Linked DNA regions of Homo sapiens: region 2 is linked to region 1. The links come from fine-mapping of genetic effects on gene expression. A gene starts in region 1. The other region holds a variant in brackets. All regions are shown on one strand. Distances are from middle to middle. Region 1 holds the start of OCIAD1 (OCIA domain containing 1). Region 2 overlaps TEC (tec protein tyrosine kinase).

The links.
Region 2: its variant is fine-mapped to the expression of OCIAD1 in spleen (GTEx, PIP 0.95).

Annotation. Positions count from the first base shown.
Region 1 is chr4:48,828,491-48,833,875 of GRCh38, reverse strand. It overlaps OCIAD1 (OCIA domain containing 1), which reads right to left and starts at 2,788. Exons shown (of 9, transcript NM_017830.4): 1 at 2,627-2,788; 2 at 1,194-1,256; 3 at 395-475. The coding sequence starts at 1,251. RefSeq lists enhancers at 1,872-2,434, 2,435-2,998, 2,841-3,220.
Region 2 is chr4:48,160,665-48,166,049 of GRCh38, reverse strand. It overlaps TEC (tec protein tyrosine kinase), which reads left to right. Exons shown (of 18, transcript NM_003215.3): 8 at 2,283-2,348. Among named protein-coding and RNA genes, the nearest start is that of TXK, 29 kb to the right of the region's middle. The variant G/A (reference allele first, on the strand shown) is at 2,945.

The sequences.
Region 1 (5,385 bases):
TCAACTCCAAACATCGTAATTTATCACCTGTGTAACACTAAGTGTTGCCATTTAACATCTCTAAACCTCAATTCCTTCACCTGTAAAGTGAGGGTAATAATAGTTATCAACCTTATTGGGTTGTTTTTATATAATCTATGTACACACAGTAAATGCTAACTATTACTATTATCAACAAAATTACCTCATGGTTTTGTTAAAAATCTGGAAATAATTACTTTAAAATGTGTGCAATTCCTTTATCTCCTTAATCTCTTTTAACAACAACCACACTATGCAAAAAGTTTGCCAATTTGTTCTATACGGAGTTATTATAATTTCAGGTTCAAATTCAAGTCAAAATTTCAGGTACAAATTTTGGATCAAATTATATTAATTAGAAAATTGAACTCACATCTGAACCAGAAGCTTTCATCATTGCATTCTGCGAAGACTCTCCTTTCTTCCTCTGTTGGAATGTAATCAGGCCCTATGTCTTTTTACCAGGGAAAATCAGAAAACATTAAATTATCCATAATAAAACTAGGTCTGAAAAATTATCTTAGCCTAAACATTAACAAGAGGCACCCATTTTTTAAACTCAAATAATAAAACAACTGGCTTATGCACTTTTTTTGTTTTTTGAGACAGTGTTTCACTCTTGTTGCCCAGGCTGGAGTGCAATGGCGCGATCTCGGCTCACTGCAACCTCCACCTCCCGGGGTTCAAGCGATTCTCCTGCCTCAGCCTTCCGAGTAGCTGGGATTACAGGCACCCATCACCACGCCAGGCTAATTTTTTGTATTTTAGTAGATACGGGGTTTCACCATGTTAGCCAGGCTAGTCTCGAACTCCTGACCTCAGGTGTTCCACCCATCTCAGCCTCCCAAAGTGCTGGGATTACAGGCATGAGCCACCGAGCCAGGCCACTTATACACTTTCAACAAACTTTGACTTCAAATAGAATTAATGCTACTATCTGCTAGTCAGGACTGGCTACCTAATGTGCTGGGCCCAGTGCAAAATAAAAACGTGGGACTCCTTATCCAAATGATTATGAATTTCAAGATAACAAGACTAGAACATGAAACCAAGTATGGGGCGCTGTCTGCACATGCCCATGAAGCCAGCCCACCTGCCACTGTTACTCAAGGCAGTGAAAATTCCTTTACATAGGAAGTGCTTCTAATTATAAATACTTAATAGATAGTTACGGGGAATTGGTCTTGGAACCTCTGCATTCGGCTCTCGAAAATCAGCCCTCCCATTCATCTTTCCTGTATCAAAAACATTACATATTAAGTATTAGAAACTATCACTAGATAGGTCAAAGTAAATCAAGACGTATGATATAGTAAAACTACTAGTCTACACAGCAATCAATCAACAAATATTTATTAAACACTACTATATCTTACGTACTCCACATGTAAATAGCTAGATGAAAAAGTAACAGACCTACTGATTAATTTGGAACTCACTATTCAGGTTAAGTCCCTTAATTGAAAAAGCATATGCGTTTTATAAGTTTATAATTTTTTTTACTATCAAGATATCAATAAAATAACAGACATATTTTTTCCTCCTGGAAGTGGGTTCTTTCACATCCTATGTTTTGGTCGTTTCTCGAATCTATGCCCAATGATTAGGATAATTCCCCAAAATAGAAGAGAAAAAAAATTTCAAGTCATTTCTGAGCTTCCATATTAAAAAATGAAATAATCATCAGAAACATTCAACCTCTCCCACAAAGGAGCACTCCAAAATTATGGAATAACAAAGACGACATATCCTTCTCCCTGTGAGGTAAAACTAACAGCAAATTCTGTATCTCCAAATTTCCTTCCACCCCAAGAATATAAGAAAAAAATGCATAAAATTCCAAGAATATACATTTTTTATTTGGTTCTTTTTTTAAAAACTCATATATTGGGACTCAGACCAACAGATCAAGTAACCGTATTTTACAGAACGTTTACGTGGGATCATGATTATTCTCATTTTAAAAACAATTTGCATGGAAACAGGAAATGGCATACACAATGAGGACAGCAACTGAGCCCTTCCATAATTCATTCAGTCAATAAGCCATGAAGGCCTACTACATGCCAACCCCTTAATTAGAGAAAAGAAATAAAAAAGGTCAGCTGAATTCATGGATGGATGGAGCCTGCTGAATAAACTACCTTTACCCTACAACCGTATGAGAAAAAATGAAACCCTCTTATTTCCCATAACGGCATCCTTCCTAGAAACACCAGGAAGACTGTCAGGGCTGACACGGCGCTTAAGACAATACCATTTTAAGTTCTTTACACAAAACAACGCTGGATTAAAGCCTAAGCGGCCTACAACCGCTGATTACCGCACTCCATCCTCCACCCAGTGTCCGTCTCCCACCTGCCGTTACAGACTGAGCAGCAACCCCACACGCATCCGTGACCACGAACTTCCCCAGCTCACACCCCCAGAAGCACTCCGTCGCCTCCCGCAGTCACCGGCACTCAGGAGGCCGAGACCCGAGCGCGATCTGTCCACCCTCACAGGCAGGAAAATGGCGGAAGGTGCGAAAGTCGTGGATGGCCGCAAAGGTGGTGAGGGGATACGCGGAGGGCAACAACGGGGCTGTTTGCGTCACCTCACCCACCTCCCGACGACAGCAGCAGGCGACTGCAAGGAAAACCAAGCGATCAGGGGCAGAAGGCCCGGAGGGTGGACTCGAGAGGGGGCAGGGAGGGAGAAAAGTGCAAGGTACCGCGGGGAGGGGGAGGGGTAGAACAGCCGCAAGAAGTCATCCAGACAGGGGCTCAAAATGACCGCGACCCGGAGGCACTGTATACTTACGGCAGGAAATGACGTCAGACCTCACTGCGGGTCTGAGAGCCAGCAGCCTAGGAATAGACGCATGCGTATACTCGTCCCTTTGCCCTTTCAGGCAGCTGCGGCCACGAGCCGCACTGCGACTGCGCAGGCGACAGCGGCGGACCAAGAACCCTGCCCCGCCCCTTCCCTGGATGGCGGGGAAGGGGGTTGGGAGTAGGCTTGACTTTGGGCTGTTGTGATGCACCTCTCTGGTCTTCTCGTGGCGGCTGGCGGGAACGTTCCGGAACCCTCTGTTGTCCCTCTTTTGAGAGCGACTTTATAAATTATCTCTTTTATGAGATAATTTCATTCTTTGAGCCTGTAGGCTAAGTAGTAGAAAGTAATTTTTAAGCATGCATACCTGGTTATTTGTCACACCCTCTTGATCCAAGTTTCCAACAAGTTCTACAACCTCTGGCAGGGTACCGTGATCTCTCTGAGGCTACGGTTTTTCTCACCTGAAAAGTGGAATTACATATAGGGTTGTTAGAATTAAAACAACACATCACTGTCTATTAATGAGGGGGCTCACGACTTCTACACATCAGACATGGTGCTGCCACACCCAGCCAATCAGCATTTTACTCATTTTCATACATTCCTTCCTGAAGTATTTATTAGTGCCATGTACTGCAAGTTATTAGTGACTAAACAGTGGGCAAATCCAGTCCTACTATTTGTCAACCCCTCAAAGCCTCTCAGGTTTCTCATCTCTTTCTGAGCCCCTTTGCCACTTTATCATTTAACATTTATTCTCCCGAAGACATACTTAAGGGAGACAGTCACGTGAAACGAATCCAACGCTGTGTTTCCTTCCTTGGAGTCTTTTGATAGCTCCAGTCATGCACCGAATATAAGGCCCATCATGGCCTGGTGGTGCCTGTGCCTTTTGAGCGTCACTTTCTTCTATTTCAGGGTTCACTAACAAGAAACAGCCTGGAGGTCTTTGCCCTCAGTGTTCTCTGTGCACTGTTTCCCCAGTACAACTCTACTCCCTGCTTTGTCAATTCTAACGATATTTCAAAATTCTGCTTTTACATCACCACCTTTGTGATGCCTTCCCTGAAATACACCCCAGAGAAGTAATCACTCTTCCTTCTTAGTCCTTAGCTTGTCCATACTGCTGTCACTGCAATGTACTTTTGCACTGAATAGTGATCTTTTTTACTTACGTCTGTCTCTGTTACAGAGCTCCTTTAGGACAGAGATGTTGGCTTGTAAGTCTTTATAGAACCAAATAAATCCCTGAGATAATCAGTATTAGTAACTAATACTCATTTTGTTCCTGGGACAAGCTAATTTACTTCTGGGCCCAGGGCTTGTGCAATTGCTGTTCCCTCTTCTAGACCACTGTTCTTCCAGATGTTCAACGTGGCTTTTTGTCTGAGACTTCAGTTGATGTCACCACATCAGAGAGGCATTCCTTGACCACCCAATTAACATGGCACCCCAGTCACTCTCCATGTTACCTTGCTTATTGTTTTCATAGTATTTGTTATGGTCTAAAACAATGATTTGTTTGTGTATTGTCTCTCTTCACTAAAAAGGTCTATGACAGTAGGAGCCGTATTTGCCTAGCATCAGTGATTGGCACATGATCATATGAAGCCAACAAATATTTCTTAAATGAATTTGTTGAATGCATTTTTATAGGAGAAAAAACAAAAATAAGAAAATTAAAAGACATTCTAGAAGAAACAAAAATAAAAAAATTAGAAGACATTCTAGGTGGTGAGCTTTATGTTAAAGCAAAGTTTTTTGTTGTTTTTTTTTTTAGGACAGGGCCTTGCTCTATTGTCTAGACCGTAGTACAGTGGTGCCATCTCGGCTCACTGCAACCTTCGCCTCCCAGATTCAAGCAATTCTTGTGCCTCAGCCTCCTGAGTAGCTGGGACCACAGGTGTGCACCACCACGCCCAGCTAATTTTTTTATTTGTAGAAGAGACAGAGTTTCACTACTTTACCAGCCTGGTCTCCAATTCCTGGCCTCAAGTGATCTGCCCACTTTGGCCTCCCGAAGTGCTGGGGTTATAGGCATGAGCCACTGCACCAACTTTAAAGCAAAGTCTTTTTCTTTGCTTCCTGACTAGATTGTAAGATTCCAGAATCCAGTTTTATCATATTCTTTATACTTACTGAGCCAGGCCTAACACATAGTGTGTCCTAAATTGGTGGGTTCTTGGTCTCACTGACTTCAAGAATGAAGCTGCGGACCCTCACGGTGAGCGTTACAGTTCTTAAAGATGGTGTGTCCAGACTTTGTTCCTTCTGATGTTCGGACATGCTCGGAGTTTATTCCTTCTGGTGGGTTCGTGGTCTTGCTGGCTTCAGGAGTGAAGCTGCAGACCTTCGCAGTGAGTGTTACAGCTCTTAAGGCGGTGCATCTGGAGTTGTTCATTCCTCCCGTCTGGAGTTGTTAATCCCTCCAGGTGGGTTCATGGTCTCACTGGCCTCAGGAGTGAAGTTGCAGACCTTCACAGTGAGTGTTACAGCTCATAAAGGTGGTGCAGACCCAAAGAGTGAGCAGCAGCAAGATTTATTGCA
Region 2 (5,385 bases), 670 kb after region 1:
GAAGGCCCATGTAGACCTTGGAAATGAGCAGGGTGTTCTGGGGTCCTAGTTACCCAGAAAGGAGCATGGGAACACAGGTCAGAGGGAACACGCACTTTTGCAGAGCTCTCAAAAGTGTGGGGTTAGAGCAAGAGCTTCTCTGGCCCAGGTCTAAGGATGGAACCAATTATGTAATTCCAGTTTCCCCGATTAGCTCTAATACTTATTTTTACTGTTGGTTTATTCAAATCAGGACCCACACACTGCATTTTGGTTAATATATCTCTTATGTTTCTCTTATTCTACATTTTTGATTTATTGATGAAAGCAGGTCATTTAACACTAAAATGAGCCATAATCTAGATGAAACAGATTGTTTTCTTGTGGTGTCACTTAATATGCCTGTGTTTCTTGTATTTCTTGTGAACTGGCGAGTAGAGCTAGAGGCTTGATCACATTAGAAGGTGATCTCTGGATGTCCTACTTTTAGTAATGCTAAGATTGCTTAGTGGTTCAGGTGTCAGACTTGTTCCTCTGTCATAAAGTTCTTCATTGGTATTTACCCTGATGATTTGGGGGTTCATTAATGATTCTTTCTTAGAGTCATTATTTCATTAGGGGTTACAAAATGGTGATTTCCTAATTTTGTCATTCCATCTGCATTTAGTAGTTCTCTAAAGAAGAACTGCCTCATATACCAGTTCATTTAGTTCATGAAGGAAAGGAAAGATGAAATTTGGATTCTTAAACTTTTACTAGTTTTCAGAATAATGAGTTGATGACTGAGCTTTCTCTAGTGATAACAATGGTAACCAACAGTTTATTTTTAGTGTTATTATGGATACTTATATATTTGGTTCCAATCCATTGCCACCATTATTCTCTTTGCTTGAATTGGCCAAATTAGGTCGATGGTGGCTGTTTTTGGTAGAGGATCCTGTTAGTTTTTCTTTCCTACTTTCTGGCTCAGTGAAATGGCTCAAGTTATCTTGTATTTATTTTTCTGGCCAAACTTACAATTTGACATTTTTCTTTTCTTTTCTTTTTCTTTCTTTTTTTTGAGATGGAGTCTCGTTCTGTCTCGCAGGCTGGAGTGCTGGAGTGCAGTGGCGTGATCTCGGCTCATTTCAACCTCCGCCTCCTAGGTTCAAGTGATTCTTGTGCCTCGGCCTCCCAAGTAGCTGGAATTATAGGCATGTTCCACCACGCCCAGCTAATTTTTGTATTTTTTAGTAGAGATAGGGTTTCGCCATGTTGGCCAGGCGGGTCTTGAATTCCTGGCCTCAAGTGATCTGCTTGCCTTGGCCTCCTAAAGTGCTGGGATTACAGGCGTGAGCCACTGCACCTGGACACAATTTGACATTTTTCTAAGGGGGACTGGCTCCTTTTAGTCACAAATGGTATTTAGAGACAGTGGCAATGCTAAGATCTTAACTGCTGCTGGATTGCCGTTCCTTCTGGGCCTTTCTCAGTGCAACAGAGCTACCTGTATGCACACATTTGTGTGTGTGTGTGTGTATTATGAGTTCTTACTAATACTTTAAATTCAAATTTAAGATTATAAGGTTTCTACTCAATTTTTAAATTTTATATGTATATCTGTTTTCTTATGCTGAAAACCTTAGCTCCTACTTACATAAGAGTGCATCTTAAATTGTGATGTGTGTGAAAGTCATTTGGGGTAAAATCGGACATTTTTTGACCTCACATAGGTCTTCTCAGTTCACATTTATTGGGTTATGACCCAAGAATTTGCTGTTTTAACAGGTGCCCCAAATGATACTGACCGAAAGGCCAGGAATTATCCTTTGTGAAACTATTCTATAAGAACTATTGAGGTATTAGAGTGGTGGGTATTTTTAATCCAACACTTTGACTTTTCTCAAGTAATGGTTTCTTTAACACATATCAGCAAAACTGTGAATTCTGGAGAAGTATTGTGGAATGTTGGAGGAGCACAGGAGCTAGTCACAAGTCCAGAGTTTGAGTTCTGGCCCTGTTGCTGGCTAACTTTAGGACCTTTGGGAAAAAAAATCCTATAACCTTTCTAAGCTTTAGTTTCCCCACCAGAAAATAGGTACAATAATGCCTGCCTACCGCAGAATTTTTATGGAGACCAAAAGTGAAAGTACTTTGTAAAATGTCAAGTGAATTACAGATACTGCATTTTGGGGGGTCAGCTAGTCTTTCTTATAATAAGCTTTAAGCAATGTCATGCTTTATTTCAAAAGGCAATAATCTTTCTTTCTTTCAATAACCTCCCAGTAAAGTAAGTTTACCTAAAGTATTTTTCTTATTTCTAGGAATGAAGGATATATCCCAAGTAATTACGTAACGGGAAAGAAATCAAACAACTTAGATCAATATGAGTAAGTAAATGTTTATTTTGTGAATGTGGAAAATCAGAAACTTTTCATTTTCCTAATTATGTAAGGCATTTTGAAGATTAATGGATATCTTTCATGATTCTTTGAAGGGGGTGCTAAAATATCCTTAACTCAATTGCCTGATGTGGTAAAAGACTGAGAATTAATCTCTATAATATATTTTTCCTGAAGGTACTGTGTGAATGGAGTTACATAGGCTTATGTACATAAATTACATAAGCATAATTGAATTGATTTGAAATAAATCACAGATTAGCTGACTTTGAAATACAGATCATGTCCATTCATTCAGGACATAAGCAGAACAGTTTCCAGAGTGGAAATGTTAATAAGAAAAAATTACTGAAATTAATTAGAGTTGACCTTTGTCAGCATTAGTATATTTCCTTTCAATCTTTTTACTATTTTTGAAAAGATAGAATCATGCTTATTTCCTCATACACTTTAATATTCTTTGAAAACATTTTCCTAGCTACATTTTATTTCATTTGATCATAAATTTATTAAATATTTACTGAGATCTTAGCATGTATCAAGCATTATGTATGGCCTTAGAGACATAACCAGGCAGATGGCAC[G/A]TGGATGTCCAATAATTTATGTAATCATTTCCTTATTTGTGTGGTTTAGGTTGTTTTAGGTACCTTTGCTATATTAAAAAAAAAATGGGATAACGTCTTGTTTCTTATCTTAAACTGGATCTCTAAAATCTATGTGCTGGGCTACAGGCTGTACGTGAACATTGTTAGGGTTCCCAACGCATGCTGTCAAATTGCTTTCCAGATAACTTGTATTATTTATATACCCACTAGCAGTGTGTGGCCAAGTTGTAACGTGAGGCTCATATACATTGAACGCTCTTTTATGGTCATTCTGAGGTGGTGTATTGATGCTTCATTCACTTCCTTGAAAACAATAGCAACAACAAGCTGTTCCTCTCTTCATGTCACTTGCTATACCATAAGTGTACCTTAACATCTAGGAAAGGGTTAACAAGTTCAAAAAGCCACAGCGCTCAGTGGATGTGATCTCTCAAAGTAATTTTAGAAGTAGAAGAGAGTATAAACAATGTATAAATAAAGTAGCATTTCTGCCCTTAAGTCAAATAGATTTTTGGAAAAATTATAAAATCCTTAGAATTAGGGAAGGTGCTAAAAGGTGAAAACTTGGGCCTGGTTTTAAAGCGATAGCGTGGAGAACTGATTGAATTTGGGGAAAGAGGATGCTTGGAAGCCAGATAATCCTTATCTAAATATGAGAACTCCTTTTATGACTCATGTGATTTCAGTTGAGGTTTTTCAATATTGAAGTTTATGATTCATGGCCTCGAGTGTTTCAAATGTACCTTAATTTGGAAATTTTCTCTCTTCCAAGAAATTTTCTTCCTCTGCATAACTCTGTACTTCAGCCTCCAGCGTGGGAGTGCCACTGCATTCTGTTCAGAGGCCAGGGAATCCACATGGCCTTTGTACCATGCCCAGTAGATGACCAAGGGGAAACCTGTTCCCATGTGGGCAGGCAGAGACCCTATTCTGTCTTCCTACTCCATGTTCTGTTTTGTTTTGTTTTGGCCAAAGCCCACCCTGTAACACAATTGTATTAGTCAGGGTTCTCTAGAGGGACAGAACTAATAGGATAGATGTATATATAAAAGGGAGTTTATTAAGGAGTACTGACTCACGATCACAAGCTGAGGTCCCATAATAGGCCGTCTGCAAGCTGAGGGGAAAGGAAGGCAGTCTGAGTCCCAAAGCTGAAGAACTTGGAGTCCAATGTTCGAGGGCAGGAAGCATCCAGTACGGGAGAAGGATGTAGGCCAGAAGACTAAACCAGTCTAGTCTTTCCAAGTTCTTCTGCCTGCTTTTATTCTGGTTGTGCTGGCAGCTGATTAGATTGTGCCCATCCAGATTGAGGGTGGGTCTGCCTTTCCCAGTCCACTGACCCAAATGTTAATCTCCTTTGGCAACACCGTCATGGACACACCCAGGAGCGATACTTTGCATCTTTCAATCCAATCAAGTTGACACTCAATATTAACCATCACAACAACTTAAATGTTCTCAAGTATTAAAAAAAAAAAAAAAAAAAGCCTCTGGCAGCTGTGGAGTGAATAGTTCTCTTTGCTTGGGCCCAGGAGGAATCCCAGGCCACAGACTGTCACTGGGCTGAACTCAGGATTTCCAGGCCCGCAGCTCCTAGTGTTATCAGTAACCTAGTTCTAACTTCCATACCCAGTCAACAGTGTAGGGAGGAGAAGATCGGAGAGATCAGTGCTGGAAAAGAAAGCAGATTCGTTGTGATGGTTAATAACAGGATGTTCTTGGTGGAAAGATGGTAAAGGGAGAAGGTGACAGAAATGAAAGCGCCCTTAGGACTGGAAAAAGCTTAGGATAAAGGCTTTGAGTGGGTGGCATAGTTAGAAGGGCAGAATTAGAGAACAAGCTAAGATGTATAACTGGTTGGTTTTATGTTTTTCCTTTGTTCTACCTCTTGTCTTCTTTTCATGATTTATTCTCACCCATTCTCACCAAGAAGCTTGGCAAGGGTCTGACCTTTCCGGGTTAAAAGATGAAATGCCCTCAAACCTCTTCTTTCCTTATTGACACTGCTATTTTGGGGTAACTAGCTAATCTGAAAAACTAATTCACATTAGGGATTTAATATCTAAGAAGAATCTGACAAATGACCTACAAATTCAGGGCCTAATTTCTAGATGTATAGTTCCTTCATCAAAAGGTATTAGCCTCTAATAAAGCTTTTCTGTGGCATGCTTTTTTTTTTTAAATCCCTACTTTTCAACCCGCTGCTTTTGAATTAATTCCTTCCTCCCTTCCTCCCTCCCTCTCTCCCTCCCTCCCTCTGTCTCTCTCTCTTTCTCTTTCTCTTTCTTTCTTCTTTTCTTTTCTTTCTTTCTTTTTTTCTTTTCTTTCTTTCTTTCTTTCTTTCTTTTTTTTTTTCTGGAGACAGAGTCTTACTCTGTCACCCAGGCTGGAGTGCAGTGGTGCAATCTCAGCTCACTGCA